2 linked regions of the Homo sapiens genome follow. Changing the gene in region 1 together with any one later gene gives a genetic interaction. Each region holds a gene or a part of one and is shown on either strand. Other genes may lie near its edges.

Region 1 (7,951 bases):
CACTTACACAGGAAAACTGTGCCATCCCCTGGAAGACTCACAAGCAAGGACGGGGCAAACAGGTGAGGTAACGCTGCAGAGGTTGGGAAGAGACTGGAGTGGAGAAGGGCGTGGGAGAACTGAGGGTGGAACACGAAGAAAGAGGGCATCCTTGGCTCCTAGAGAGTCTGCCTTGGTCTCACCTGTCCCCATAGAGGAGGGGCTTGCTCAGACACTGGGTGCAGGCCTCATGGAACCACTGCAGGCAGCTCCGGCACTGCAGCATTTTCAGGTTCCACCTGAGGGGGAACACAGGACTTCTGGCCTCCAGAAACCCCCTTCCCCATAACTGTCCCAAACCCTAAACTTACCTCCTATCCCCCTGAGTGCTACCCTCATCCTGTTCTTTTTCCTTCATTTCCTGGGATCCACCACCACATCATTCATTCCACAGTCTGCTCCCCTCTCATTACTCACTCCCCAGGGCCACCACAGTAACAGTAACTCTGCTGTCGGTTGCTCAGATGTCCAGCATCCCAGTCCAGCCCCTTCAGTCCATATGGCAGAGAAAGCTTCATACCCAGCATGGCCCGGGCATAGGGGCCCTTCTTCAGGGCACCTCCCCTCTGCAGAGACAGGACAGGTGGGTGGCTTCAGAGGGGTGGGGAGAGGAAAAGGCTTGGGAGAGGCTGTGGATGGGAGGCTCCCACAGGAAGGGTAACAGGGAAGTGCCTTTACCTTGGTGGCGATCGCAAAGACACACTGGCGGCATACCCAGGATGTGCCCTCTCCCTCTCCAGGGGCTGGAGCCCTGGGAACATGGCAGTCCTGGTGATAAGCTGCAGTGATAATAGTAGACCACTTATTGCATACCTGTGTGTGCTTGGTATTGGGACAGGAATAGTCTTTACCCATCTCATTTAATCCCTGACCATGGTCTTGATGAGGGGGTGCATTATCCTTATTTTACAAGTCAGGGAACTGAGGCTCCTAGAGGTTAAGGGACTTGTCCGAGGTCATATGGTTAGAAAAGGATGCATTTAAACCATCTTCTGCCTGCAAAGGTTATACCACCCCTTTCCATGGCTGCTTCTCCCTGGGCTGAAAGCGGATGAGGACTAAGATAAGGCTAAGCAGCCTGGCCAGAGCAGTGGCTTGGGGACTAAGGCCAGGACAGGTGATATAGAGACCATCCTGGAGGGAAGAGCAAGCTGGACCATTCAGGTGACCTGCCCTCTCACCATGGCGACACTTCTCACAGCTGACCAGCCGGTTCCCAGGGACCACAGTCTCAGAGCGACAGACACAACAGAGGAGTTCCTCTCCAGGGAGGGCAGCTGTGAGAGAACACAGTGTCACAGGGCCTGCCTTTAAGTCTCTTTCTGCCCCTCTAGGCCAGGTTTGTTTTCCATGGGATGTGCAATCTCAGGTCTCTAGAGTCTTACCAGGGCTAATGTCTTTCCATAGAACCAGAAACTGCGAATCATCCTCAAACTGGACCAGACACACCTCCCTAGCACTGTCCACCTGGAATGGGTGAGCAAACAGGATGAAATGGGAACCAGAATTAGATAAGGGAACTAGGAAGAAGGTCAGAGGTAGAAGGTCTTACCTTTTTGATGGTACCCAAGTATAGCAGCCCATCAGTCCATCTGGCCAGCACATCTTGACCCTCCCAAAGCCGAGGCCTGGGGCCAGAGGTGGGAGCAGGAGAAGCTGGGTCCCAAAGTGAGGAGGCACCAGAGCGGCTCAGCCGGGGGGGCTGCGCCATTGCATCCTGGGGGGGCCTAGCCAGAAAAGAAATGGGGAGGAGAAGGTTATGAATGCTGAGAAACCTTCCCCATTTTCTTTTTCTTTTTTTTTTTTTTTTCCTGAGATGGAGTTTTGCTCTGTCGCCCAGGCCAGAGTGCAGTGGCACAATCTTGGCTCACTGCAACCTCCACCTCCCGGGTTCAGGCAATTCTCCTGCCTCAGTCTCCCAAGTAGGTGGGATTACAGGCGCATGCCACCATGCCTGGCTAATTTTTGTATTTTTAGTAGAGATGAGGTGTTGGCCATGTTGGCCAAACTGGTCTCGAACTCCTGACCTCATGATCCACCCACCTCAGCTTCCCAAAGTGCTGGGATTACAGGCGTGAGCCACCGGGCCCGGCCAGCCTCCCCATTTTCTTTGCCTATTTTGCCATCAAGAATGAAGTATCTGTGCCCCCATCTCCAAATCCCTGAGACACCTTGATAGGAAACCACTGGGCACCCATCACCAGCTTTTTGAGTCCTCTTCCAACTCTAGTGACTGGCTCTCCTCTCGGTAACTAACAGCCCTCCCCCCGACCCCAAACCTAGTTGCTAGTTTCCCAGCTTCCAGAGCTCTCCTGGGATATTATATACTGGCCTTGAAATTTTAGGAGAAATTATGGTTGTAGAAGCAAAGGCTACTCAGTTTAGAGGTATCATAATTAGGGTGTCCTGTTGCCCAGAGACGTGTTTTGGGACCTTTTCTGGAGATGTTTTCCAGAGCAGAAACGGCTGTCTCCCCAGGCCTGCGCGTCTCATTAAGAACAATCATCCTGGTGCCAGGTTATGTCAGGTCACCCTCAAATTCGGGGCTCCCTGCCCCCGGGTTAGACAACTTCTCTGAGTGCCCCGGGAGGGGGGCGTGTCCCAGTCCCGGTCTCTACTCCCCAGGACGGCAAGTCCGAGAAGGGACTTGTGTCGGCCCAGCCCGGACCCGAGGCCAAGGCGGCGAGGCTCTCCCGCCCGCGCCCCGCGCCGACCCCCGGCTCCCTGCCCCCCACCAGCGCCTCCTGCCGCCTCCTTACCGGTGACAGCTGGGGCCGCCGGGAGCCGGGCAGGGGCAGACGTAGGAGACCTAGGCGAGTCCCCCGCGCGGAGAGGGCACGTCCGGGCGTGGGGGGGCGTGCAGGCGGAGGCCGGGGGGTCCCCAGGCCCAGCCCCTCCGTCCCGGCGGCTCTGGGGCGTATGACGCAGCAGCCAAAGCAGCGGCAGCGGCAGGAGGAGGAGGCGGCGGGGGGGAGGGAGGGAGGGGAGGGACGGACCGGTTGGGGGGGAGGGTGGTGGGAGGGGAGGACTGGGGGAAAGGAGGAGCCGGAGGGGGGGGCGGGCACCACCTCACCCCACCTCCCTCACCTCCAACAGGCCTGGAGGGCGCCGAAGAAGAGGCTGGCCCTCCGCGGCTTGGGGAGCGAAGAGTCGGACCCGGTGGGAGAGGGAATCCCCTCAGCCCCTTCCTCCGACCTGAGATTCGCCCTTGGGGCACGAGGGAATCCCCCCTCCCGGCAGCCCGCCTCCGGCCTGGTCCCCCGCCCCATGCCACATCCGTTAGCTGCCCCACCCCCCATGGTCACTCCAAGTCCCGCCCCCCGGCCCCAGTTCACAGCCCCGCCCTCCATTCACCCTTCTCGATGCCCCCACCACGCCCTCCTCCCTCGCGCGCCCCGCCCTCCCCGTGACGAGTCGCGCCCCACCCACCGCCCTTTTGCGCACGCGTGTCCCCTCCTGCGCGCGGCACCTGGGAGGACTGAGCCCCTCCTTCACCGGGCGGCGGCCGTCGGCGGTTGGCGCGAGGGAGTCGGCGGGCGTGCGCGCCGCTTCCCGTGGACGTCCCGCCCCGTGCTTCCAGGGCTGGCGCAGACGAAGGGCGCGAGGACCCAAGGCGGTGACGCCACCGAGAGCCAGCCAATGGGCAGCGAGCGGGCAGAGCCCCAGCCGTTCGAACGGAAAGGCAGGGAAAGGGCGGGACGGGAGGAAAGAGCCAACAGTTTGGGAGCGCGCGCTAGCCCCGCCTCTGGACTCTGGGGTCCGGTCCCCATTTGCCGACACCCACCAAAGGAACGTTCTTCCCTGGGGCTGGGGTGGCCGGCGGAAGGGTGAAAGTTACCTATAACTAGTGACCAAGGAGGGGGCGTGGATAGCTAGAGGGCACACCTCCCTGATGTGACGGACGGGGTAGGGGGTATTAGCAGAGGGGAAGATGATCCAGGCCAAGGTCCAGAACCGGTGATAGCAGAGGGGAGAAAAGACGAAGCCCTCAGCCCCCGCTCCCGCCTCCCACGTAAACGTTTGGCAGAGGGTACAGATCACAGCTCCCACTTTTACAGATATGAAAGTATCTGCCTTCTTGGGCAAATGCTAATAAAACCTTTATTTAAAAAAAAAACCAAACTATTCTTTATTTGATAGCCCTGGGACATGGTGCCCTCCACCCAATAAAGCACCCTCCAGCAACCCTCCCACCCCTCACCCGATACATAGACATAGGGACACACACACACACACACACACACACACACACACACACACACACACACAGATCTGGATCCGTCTTCACTTCCTGTTGGCCTGAGCAGTACCAATAACACACTGGTTCACCTGGGGGCAGGGGGTTAGACAGGATAAAAGTTTGCAGCGTAACCAATACAACATTTTTCCCAAGATCTCCCATCCTCCAATGCTAGGGCTGCCCTCAGAAATACCGAAATAAGGCCTCCAAAGGCTGGTTCAGGCTGGTGCCAGTTATGGTTTGTTCTCCTCTGCACACTAGGTTTGGAGGAGGTGAAAAGGCTTGAGAAGAGATGGAAGCCCCAGAAGAAAATACAGGAGCAGAGAAAGGAGGCTTTCATTTCCAGCAATACCCTGTACTAGAGACCTCCAACCTCTCCCACTGTAAAACACTTAAACCGAGATAAAATAGTAATAACACCCATTTAGGAACTAGGACTCCTTAGAAAATGGATCAGTTGAAGTCTGGGGAAGGAAATGTACAAGTTGAATCTGAAAAGACTACTAGAGTTCTGTCTAAAGGACACTGGCACCAATCTGAAGGAGGCTCTTTTTTTTGTTGTTGTTGTTGAGACGGAGTCTTGCTCTGTCGCCCAGGCTGGAGTGCAGTGGCGCGATCTCGGCTCACTGCAAGCTCCACCTCCCGGGTTCAAGCCATTCTGCCTCAGACTCCCAAAGTAGCTGAGACTACAGGCGCCCGCCACCACGCCCGGTGAATTTTTTGTATTTTTAGTAGAGACGGGGTTTCACCGTGTTAGGATGGTCTCGATCTCCTGACCTCGTGATCCACCCACCTCAGCCTCCCAAAGTGCTGGGGTTACAGGCATGAGCCACCGCGCCCGGCCAGGAGGTTCCTATTGGCTAAAGATGGGGCAATTTGAGCATCAGAAAGAAGAACGACTGTGGCCGGGCTGGGTGGCTCACGCCTATAATCCCAACACTTTTGGTGGCTACAATGAGCTATGATTGAGCCACTGAATTCCAGTCTGGGCAACAGAGCAAGTCCCTGTCTCAAAAAAAATAAAAATAAAAATAACCCTCAGATAAACATTCATTGGTCACCTTTGGAAGCTGCTAGGATATCAACTCAATACTGAAAATCAATAAATAATTCAGCATTTATCTTGTTTTTCCTGTATGAATTGAATTTCAGAGAAACCAAGTAGATGGCAAGGCAAATGTCTTCATAAAAGAATCGTGACTAACCAATGCAGAACAACTAAGATTAGAAAAATCCCCATTTAGAAACCCCTTAATGAAATAAAGATCCAGGTATGGTCACTGCTGGATAAAATCACTAGGTGAAAAAGTCAATAAGGAGCTTGTAAATGGATGGGTCAGGTTGACAACACCCAAATATGATAAATAAGTGAAAGTATGGGGGAAAGAGGAAGCAACCAGCCAAAATCCAGAATAGTATATTCTATAGGACAAATGACCTTCAACAAACGACATAATAGTGGCAGTGTGGGATAGGGTTGTGGAACTTGAGACATTTCAACCAAGTGGGTGGCCCTTGCCTGGATCCTGATTTGAACAAACCTATTATGTATAAAAGACACTTCTGAGACAGTTGGGTGAAATTTAACATAAACTGGGTATTAGAGGATATTAAAGTTCATGTTGTTGGATGTTACATTGGTATAACATTAATAAAAAGTTAGAAAAAACATCACCACCCTCTAAAATTGAACTTGCAAGATAGTGAGGGAAACCCTCATCAAAGTAGAATACCAGATCAGGGTGCAGGTGCTGGCTACTCCACAGCAACAATCAGTGCTGACTGGGAGGAGGCCCAAGCGCACAGCAGGACAGACCTGATCAGACCTCAAATAAAGCCAGAGCCCATCAAAGGGCTATACGCGCAGGAGGAGGGTGTACCAGAGAAAAAAATTACTGTGGAGGCAGACAGTAAGGAAACTTTCTGACTTGCTTAACACTAGTGGAAGGAGATTCTAGTGGAAGGAATTCTCATTAGTGAGAATTCATATAGCCACTGGCTGACCCTCATGAGGTTTGGAGTCTGAATTCACACTATTTGGAATAGTCTGAAAAACCTCTAAGTCTTTGATCCAGTAATCCCATTTCAAGGACTATTTCCCTAGTTAGATGTAACTGAAAAATACAAAATGATGTATGTACAAAGTTAGTCAACGTGGCCTTGTTTGTGACTAAAAAAGTGTGGAAACAATCCAAGTGTCCAGTAGAGGGAACTGGTGGATAAATTTTGGTGCAGCTACATAGTGGAGTCTAGGCAGACCTAAAAATAATGATCTCTGTATGCTGATAGGGAGGAATCTTAGGGATTTTTTGTGTGTTGGTTTTTTGAGACAAGGTCTTACTCTGTCACCCAGGCTGAAGTGCAGTGGTAGGATCACGGCTCACTGCAGCCTCCACCTCCCAGGTTCAGGTGATCCTCCCACCTCAGCCTCCTGAGTAGCTGGAACTACAGGTGTGAGCCATTACACCCAGCTAATTTTCCTATTTTTTGTAGAGACAGGGTCTCACTATGTTGCCCAGACTGATTTTAAACTCCTGGGCTCAAGCAATCCTCCTGCCTTGGCCTCCCGAAGTGTTCGGATTATAGGCATGAGCTACTACGCCCAACCAGTTTAGACCTTTTAGTCACCTTTTCTTTTTTTTTTAATCAGCTTTCTCAGGTTAAATTAATCACCCGTTTTTTAAAAAACTTAACTCAAAAGCTAATAATTAAAAATGGAACCAGGTGAGCAGTGCCTCAGATACCTGCAAAACCTTTCTGCACAAATGTGCTCCCTGCCCTAGAAGACAAAAGGGATTGGAATGGAGAAGCCTACAACCACCCACGGGTCCTGACAAGGCTGACGGGTGGTAATCGCACCTTGGAGGCAAAGCGTAGAGAGTTGAGGGACTCGGAGACGTTCTCTTCCAGTGGAGAAATGTTCACAAACATGAGCCTATGAAAAGACAATGTGCCCAACCCCAGCATTAGGGGCCAGCAGAGCCTGGACAGGTCTCCACTGTTCCCCTTTCTACCCCTCACCCCAACACAGTTCCTACCTGACCCCTTCCATCTGTCCCTTTCACTCACATCTTAGCACTACCACCCAGAGAGTTCTGCAGCAGGTAGGTCAGTTTGCTGTTCCGGTAAGGCACGTGGGACTCCTAGATGATTGAGGTGGGGACAGATGTTTAGGAATAGGCAGGGTTCTGCACAGCCAACCCCAACTGTCCCCCAGGTCCCGTATCTCACCCCACTCCCATTCCCACCTTGTTGCTCAGGGCCATGATAACCAGCCCCAGCGTGGACAGGCTGCTGTTAATGGCCTGTGTTTCCCGAAGGCGTTCCCGCTCCCCGGGGCCGAGGGCTAAGCCGGGGTCAAGTCGCTCACTCCCGGCCAGGTCCACAAGACTGAGGGGGGCCCCACACTGCAGGCCTCGGCTGGAGTGCTCCCCAGAAATCTGTAGCTGGAATACACTGTGGCTGCGTGATGACCGTTCATTCTGGGCTGTGCGGGCCACAGCCCGATTCTGGCGGGCCAGATGAAGCAGGGCGTCCACCTGGGGATGGGAGCAGAAGGGGCAAAAAGGCAGGCAGAAGTCAGTACATAGTAATATGTATGGAAATGAATAAGAGCCCACCCCCACCCTCTTGAAGCTTTCTAGCCTGTCAAGAAACAAAATAAGATGCACA
Region 2 (7,020 bases), on another chromosome or scaffold:
CAACTGCAGACGCTGCAAACGGCCCCAGGCCTGCAAACAGCAGGGCGTTCTGCAGAGGCCAGGCTCCTCCAGGAGGCCATGCAGGTCGCTCCAGACTCCACTCCCAAGAAAGCTTCTGTAAACGCATCTCGTCCCATCTGCCAGGGTTGCCAGCGGCAGGTATCTCTGCTGCCTCTCCAGGGCACAGTGGTCCCTCCCTCCTGTGGTCAGCGCTGACCCTTGCTCAGTCCCTCCTCACACAGAGATCTGGGCCCTGAAGCCCCTAGTCCAGCCTGGTCTAACCTGAGGCCTCATCCAGAGCCCAGCAACATCTGGGACAGCAAAGGGCTCGGGAGGGCCCCAGCCCAGGCCACGGCTGAGCACGCACAGCCTGGTCCATGTATCCCCCTGCCTCACCCCCTGCCTCTATCCACACAGCGTGGAGTCCCTCCTATCACACGCCAGCCCCCTGCAGGCCTCCCAGGGGACCCCGTTGATCCCCCAACACCCTCAACCCCAACCCCCGGGGCACCCCCATCTCCCTCCTCCAGGATCCTGTAACAGGCGACTGGGCTTTGTTCCAAGGCTGTGAGCCCTGTCTGGCCAGCCGGGGCTGGGGACCCCTCTTGCGAGGCCTGAGGGCAGCTCAGCCGGGCTTCCCAGACACCTGGGCCACCTGCCTGCCACACCTCCGTCTCCACTCACCTCAATGAAGGTGCTGAGCGTGGCGTTGGTGGGGTTGTGGGTGATGAGGAAGCGCATGTGTTTGTAGCTCACCTCCACCGGGGCCGGGCGGTTCATCCGAGCCATGGCGCCTCCCGACGGGCCCGGCAGGGCAGAAGGGACTGCAGAGAAGGCTGGGGACACGACCTGAGAAGTCCCCACACACCCCCAAAAAATGAGGAGAACGAGATCCCTGTGCTTGTCCAAGAGAAACGAGATTTAAAAACCCACCCCCATACCCCGCACAAATATTGTGCAAATACTTGGGTGTGGGGGAGGAAGCTGCCCACTGTTTGGATAATTAAAAAAGAAAACCCAACTCTTAAAAAAGAAAAGGAACAAAACAGCCCGCCGCCCCCCCCAACCCAACCAAAGTAAAGCGGGCAACTCCAAACTCCCGTCTCTCAGAGCTGGATAGTCATAAAGAGGCAAAAAATAAAAAGAACAACCAAAAAAGCTCAGCAAAGAAAACTTAAAAACTCAAAGTGAACCCGGCCGCCAAGCAGTGTCCAGAGCTGGACCCCACACCGGGGGCGCCCTCTCCACATTGGTGGATGGGCAGACAGCCCCCTTCACTCAGAGGTGGGCCCCAAGCCCCCAAGGGCCAGAGGAAGAATGAACTTGAACTGAACCAACTCCAGCTGCCTTGGGCCAGGGGTCACGGGCAGTGGCCGTGGGGACAGCGGCCTCTGACGTGTGGGGCCTGTGTCACGTTACCCCATCGGGGTACGGTGAGTCCTGGAGTGGGGCAGGGGGCTCAGGCGGTAGAGCTGGCCCCAGGCTGGGCAGCAGAGGCCATCGGCAGGCGAGGGCAATGGTGAGAGCCAGTGGCACGGGGACCCCTCAGCAGGAGGCGCGGCGACCCTGGGCGCAGCAGTGCTTAGGGCTGGGCCCCGTGGCCCACTCCATGAACCCCAGGTGGGTCCACAGCACACAGCATCTGTGGGGAAAGACGAAGGAAATGAATAGAAAGGGATCACAGGGGGCCCCGCCTCCCACAAGGGGTTCATGCCTGTCATGAGCCCACAGTCACAGGCGACACCTCTCCCAGAGCCCTCCTCCTGACCATGCTGAGAGAATGACCCTTTTGGGTCTATTTCCTTATATGGGAGCACAAGGAAGCACGGCTCCTGCCAGGACTGACCCAGGGCCCAGAGGCGACAGGGTAGCCACCACACAGCCAGCAGGGCATGACGGAGGACAGAGGGGACAGGGATTTCAGGGACACACACACCCCCGAGGACATGATGAACCCCAGCACACAGATGACAGATCCCTCTGTGGGGACAGAGGCCGAGTTCCTAAGAAGCCTGAGCCTGGCCCCTGCCCACCTGCTGTGATCTGCGGAAACTCCACCCCAGGACAGCTGCCCTCTCCTCTTCCGATTCTCAGCCACTGTGAACATCTGAGCCCAGGTGTCTCTGGGTGGCCCATCCTCAGGGAATGGGGCCCAGGCACTCGGTCAGTGCTGCCAGCACAGGGAGGTGAGGGGCCTGGCCCCACACGCGGCCGTGGGCCACCCTAATCGCCTCTTGCTTTCTGCAGAAAGTCTCCTGCCTGTCAGCAGCCCCCTGTCCACCAGTGTCCCCCCGCCACTGTGTCTCCACTGCTCACACAGGTCTCAGCCAGGCTCGGGGATAAACAGGCCAGCTCTGCCCCTCCAGGAGCTCAGGGAGGCGGGGACAGAACACGCCAATGGGCCAGCCATCAGGCACACATGCCAAGGTGGTGACAGCACAGGTGGCCAGGAGTGGGTTCACACCATGACAGGGCCCTGAAGAGGGGAGGCGGCAGGGGGGGCCACAGCAACCCAAGGCACCTCCACGCCTGCCTCTCTCCCTTTCTGGGTCTCATGACCCCAAAGCTCCCAGGCAAAGGGGTTCCAGGAGCACGCAGCCCCCTTCCCTCTCTACGGAAGGGCTGGGAGGCCTTGAGCAAGGTGCCGGCCTCTTTGTTACCCCATGAGCACGATGAGGGGTGACACAAGTGACCCAAGCTGTATTTGGGCACTGCTGCTGAGGGGTCCCCGCACTGCTGGCCCTGGCTGTGACCCAGCTGTTAGCAGACTCTCCAGCCCCCTAGACTCAACCCAAGCCCGGCCCTGTCACTACTGCCTGCTACCCAAGGAAAGGCACTTCAGGGCCCCTCGCCCAGCAGAGCCCTCCATTCCCCAACCCACCCCCTCTCACCTGTGCCCCTGCCCCAGCCCCAGCACCCCCTTCCCAGCTGCCCACCAGGCAGGCTGGGCCCTTGGAGCTTCAGCCCAGGTGCAGGTAGGGCTTGAGGCCTGGGCCCCTGGACTCAGAGGGTGGCTACCTGGGACAGTGGGCTCCTCCCTGCCTGCCCTCCACACCCTGGGTGGCAGCCAGTGCTCATGGGCTCAGAGCAGCCGCCACACCTCAGGCTCTGTCCACTGCATGGTTCTGGGAAGGTTAAAATGGGCGGTGGGTGTCAGGCGCAGTGGCTCACTCCTGTAATCCCAGCATTTTGGGAGGCCAAGGCGGGCGGATCACCTGAGGTCAGGAGTTCAAGACCAGCCTGACCAACATGGAGAAACCCCATCTCTACTAAAAATAAAAAAATAAAAAATGAGCCAGGCATGGAAGTGCATGCCTGTAATCCCAGCTACTCGGGAGGCTGAGGCAGGAGAATCGCTTGAACCCTGGAGGCAGAGGTTGCAGTGAGCCGAGATCGCTCCATTGCCCTCTAGCCTGGGCAACAAGAGCAAAACTCCGTCTCAAAAAAAAAAAAAAAAACCGGTGGTGGGGTGGGACCCCCAGAAGGAGGTAAAGGTGGAGACAAGGATACTGTCCCTGGTCCCGCCAGTCCCCACCTTGCCCGACTGGAGGGAGCACAGGCTCTGAGTGTGGGTGAGGGAAGCCACCACGTGCTAACAGCACACAAACACCTGGGTCCCTCTTGGGGCAGCAGGATGTCCCTGTGTGTGTGCACACGGGAGCCGAGCTCATGTTTACAGAAAGAAAGGAAGAAAAGCACCAGAGAAACCACAGTATTGGGCCTCTCCCTGAGGGGCTGACCAACCCCTCACACCTACAGCTGCCAGGGACCCAGGAAGACCCCACAGGCACCAGCACGTGGCCTGGACCTGCTGCCTAGTGGCCCTGCACAGGTCCTCAGGGCTGCAGGCTACTGGGAGGGAGGAGGCTCCGAACCACCCCACACTACCCCCCACTGAAGGCCTAAGGATGCCACACATCTGCCGGAATCAGGGGGTTAGCCTGGGCTACGCTCAGGGGTCACAGCCCAGGCTAGAATGGGGTTAGGGGTCCAGGGAGAGGCTGGACCAGGGTCTTGCCACACATCCCACTTGTCTCTGCAGCCTAGGGCCCCTACCCCTGCCCCAGGTGAGAGCAAAGCAATGATGCCCTGGCACCACTATGTGGCTCTGCCCTGCCTGGTGGCTGTCCCCCAAGGGAGAAAACCCCTCCATAACCACACGCCCCCAGTGAGGTCACCAGGTAGGGCCCTGAGAGCAAGGGTTAAGGATCCCCAGGGATGGGCACTGAGAACTCCCTGAAGCCAAAGCCTCAGGCTTCCCATCTGCGAAATGGGGACAGGTTGCCCCTGCCTCCATGTGTCCTGAGTCGCTACCACCCCCACCAGGCCCGCGGCCCACAGCACGGGGACCCACTGGCAGCCGTGGCCCCTCTTTCCCTCCTGCTACCTCCTTCCCTCCTGCTACCAAGCCCTGCAGAACCCTTCCCAAGATCTGGCTCAGCCTCCTCGGGCCAGCAGGCCCAGAGCCCTCAGCTATTTCTCAAGACCCTTTAAGGGAGAGTCCATCCTTGTCCCTGTTTGCGAGATGAGGAAACAAGCCAGGGAGAGGGGAGAACATTCTCCACCAGGGCCACACCAGGCGTCCAGTTAACTGGGTTCTCTCTGGCTCAAATCTAGGAGGCAGGAACAACACGCAGCGCCCTGCACAGAAGAGGAAATCGAGGTTCAGGGAGGCTACCGCCCTCCTTCCCGATGGCACAGCAGCTTAAGAAGTTTGAATCCAGCCCCCGCTTCAGACAGGGCGCCCCCTGTGATTTTGGGGGAGGAGGCTGGAGGCCCGGGGCTCAGCGGGTCTCAGGAGAAGTAAGCTGCGCCGCGGTCAGGGCTGAGGCGGGCGCTCTGGGGAGTCCCGGGGAACCAGTCGCGGGTGGGGTCGTGGTAAGGGGCGCGGCCCCCTCCCTGGGTGCCAGCGGGGCTCCCGCCCAGCCCTCCGGAGGGCGCCACCTCCTCCCCGGCGGGGCTGGGGTCCCGGAAGGCCTGGGTCCGCCGCGTCCCCACCTGCCAGGCTCACCCGCGCCGCAGGCGTCCCACCGCCTCCATACGCGCCGGCCTGGCGGTGCCCACGGTGCTGGCCCTGGGTCGGGGCGCCGCCCCTCCGCCGCGGAGCCGGCTCCAGGCGCTGCCGCCACCGCCGCCTGCGGCTATTTATAGCGCCCGGGCGTCACGTGGGGGGCGTGACCGGCGGGCGACCCGGCTGCCGGGGGCTCCCACACCTGCCGCCTAAATATAGCCGCGCCCTGCCCGGGAAACAAAGGGGCCGCGCAGGGCGGGCGCGGGGAAGAGGAAGCCCAGCCAGGAAAGGGAAGTGCGGGGCGCGGCGAGGGCCGGGGGCGCTGCCGCCCGGGACCCCTCCTTCCTCCCGCCGGCCGGCCCGGCGCCCTCTCCCGGTGCGCGCCCTCCCTAGAACCTCGGAGCTCCCCCTGGCCCCCTCATGGGGCTGCACGGGCCTGTGGGCTGGGGGTCCGGAGGGCAGGAGCCGCCGGGCCGCGCTCCTGGTGGGGAGGCCTGGACAGAGCGCGCCCAGCTTTGGAAATGGAAATGCGGCCCCGCCGTGCAGGTGCTGTCCTGCACCCTGAGGAGGAGGGCGCCCGAGTCCCTCCAGTTCAGACCCCCTGCCCAGCCCACCAGCCCCACCGCCCGGGCACTCCTCCATGAATTTACTCAGCACCCACCGTGCCAGACACTGCTGTCCCCTCACTTAATCCTCACGACCCCGCTGTGGCTGGCTACGCTGGTCTCTCCTAGCGTACTGGTGAGGAAACTGAGGCACTGCAACGAGGAACACCCTGAGGTAACACCGGCAGGCAGGATTCAGCCAGGCGGCGGGCTCCACAAACTCTGAGGCTCGGCACTGATGCCCCCTCTTCCAGGAAGCCCTCCCAGACCCTCTCAAGCAAACGCCTCCCTGCGACTCCTGGCTCTGCCTCCTGGGAGCATTGTGCCGGGAACTCATGTGCTCCCCAGACTATGAACCCCAGGGATGCAGCTGGCATCACCACCCACTCTGTGCCCGCCCTGGCCACCCAGGGCCCTCAGAGCAGGGTGGAGCGGCAAGGGTGGTACCCCCAGCACAGGGTCCCTGGAGGTGTGGCCCTGCTTGCAGCTCTCAAACAACCTGGTCCCTGCAATCTGAGGTCATCAAGGGGCCCAGCTGAGAGCACGACCCCCCCTCCCCCTGCCAGGCTCTCCCCACCCACACTTCCAGAAAACATCACCATCAGCCTGGCCCAGCTGTGCCGGCAACCCTCGCCTCCTCCCACCTCCAGGTGGGCAAGCAGGCTGGGGAGCAGAGGACAGGAGGGCTGTGCCCAGTCTGAAGGGCCCCATGGGAGCCTCCACCCAAGGGCACACCAAGCCAGGTAGCCCTGCCTGCCAGCTCATGGACCCCCAAGGGTGTGAGCTCCCTGGCAAGGGCACCCACCCACGTGGGTGCACCCAGCTCCACAGGGAGACGCTAGGCTCTGACTCCTGCCCAGTGCTCTCAGCTCACCACTTCCAGCAGCGTCTCCCTGAAGGTTGAAGGCAAGAATGGGTCAGCTTCAGGGACTCTGCCCCACCAATCTCCAACCTCAGCCACTTTCTAAGGATACCAGGCTAGACACTGCATTCCACAAGCAAGACACACACCTGCCACACTGCACTGACAAACCATAACAGCACAGAGAAGCTGAGCAACCCTTCTGAGTCACACAGCCAGAAGGCAGAAAAACCACATTTGGAGCTGGGTCTTGCTGCCCCCGAGACCCTGCTTATCCCCACCCTAGCCCTCTGGGAGAGAGGACCTCTGGGGTAAGCTGCTCCTGCCCCCCAGCCTCAGTTTTCTTATCCATAAAAGGGGTCTCAGAGTGAAAGTTCCCATCAAGCTCTGTGATGCTACAACCAGACAGAGCCCGTCGCCTCTGGCGCTACAAAAGTGGACCCCAGCATCCTCATCACCCCCACCCGGGCTCCACCCCCTTGCCTGGGGCCCTCTGGCCGGGCCTGGGAGGCACCTGCTGCAGCTGGCACAGCCCCAGGCCT

What was found. A genetic interaction does not mean that the proteins touch.
Region 2: changes in PHF1 (region 1) and PTP4A3 together harm fitness less than expected from each alone (positive genetic interaction), as found in Homo sapiens cells (one study listed by BioGRID).

What each region holds. Positions count from the first base shown.
Region 1 is NC_000006.12:33,406,063-33,414,013, reverse strand, and holds the start of PHF1 (PHD finger protein 1), read right to left. Parts: upstream 3,001-7,951; 5' UTR 2,799-3,000; intron 1,767-2,798; coding exon of another isoform or gene 1,751-1,766; coding exon 1,592-1,750; intron 1,507-1,591; coding exon 1,425-1,506; intron 1,317-1,424; coding exon 1,221-1,316; intron 819-1,220; coding exon 718-818; intron 606-717; coding exon 457-605; intron 279-456; coding exon 183-278; intron 1-182. Other genes in the region: kinesin-like protein KIFC1, read right to left, coding at 4,324-4,368, 7,139-7,214, 7,349-7,422, 7,528-7,818. UniProt on the Homo sapiens protein: Polycomb group (PcG) that specifically binds histone H3 trimethylated at 'Lys-36' (H3K36me3) and recruits the PRC2 complex. Involved in DNA damage response and is recruited at double-strand breaks (DSBs).
Region 2 is NC_000008.11:141,416,010-141,423,029, reverse strand, and holds part of PTP4A3 (protein tyrosine phosphatase type IVA 3), read right to left. Parts: intron 6,905-7,020; exon of another isoform or gene 5,673-6,904; intron 5,122-5,672; exon of another isoform or gene 4,999-5,121; intron 4,642-4,998; exon of another isoform or gene 1,643-4,641; 5' UTR 790-1,642; coding exon 685-789; intron 1-684. UniProt on the Homo sapiens protein: Protein tyrosine phosphatase which stimulates progression from G1 into S phase during mitosis. Enhances cell proliferation, cell motility and invasive activity, and promotes cancer metastasis.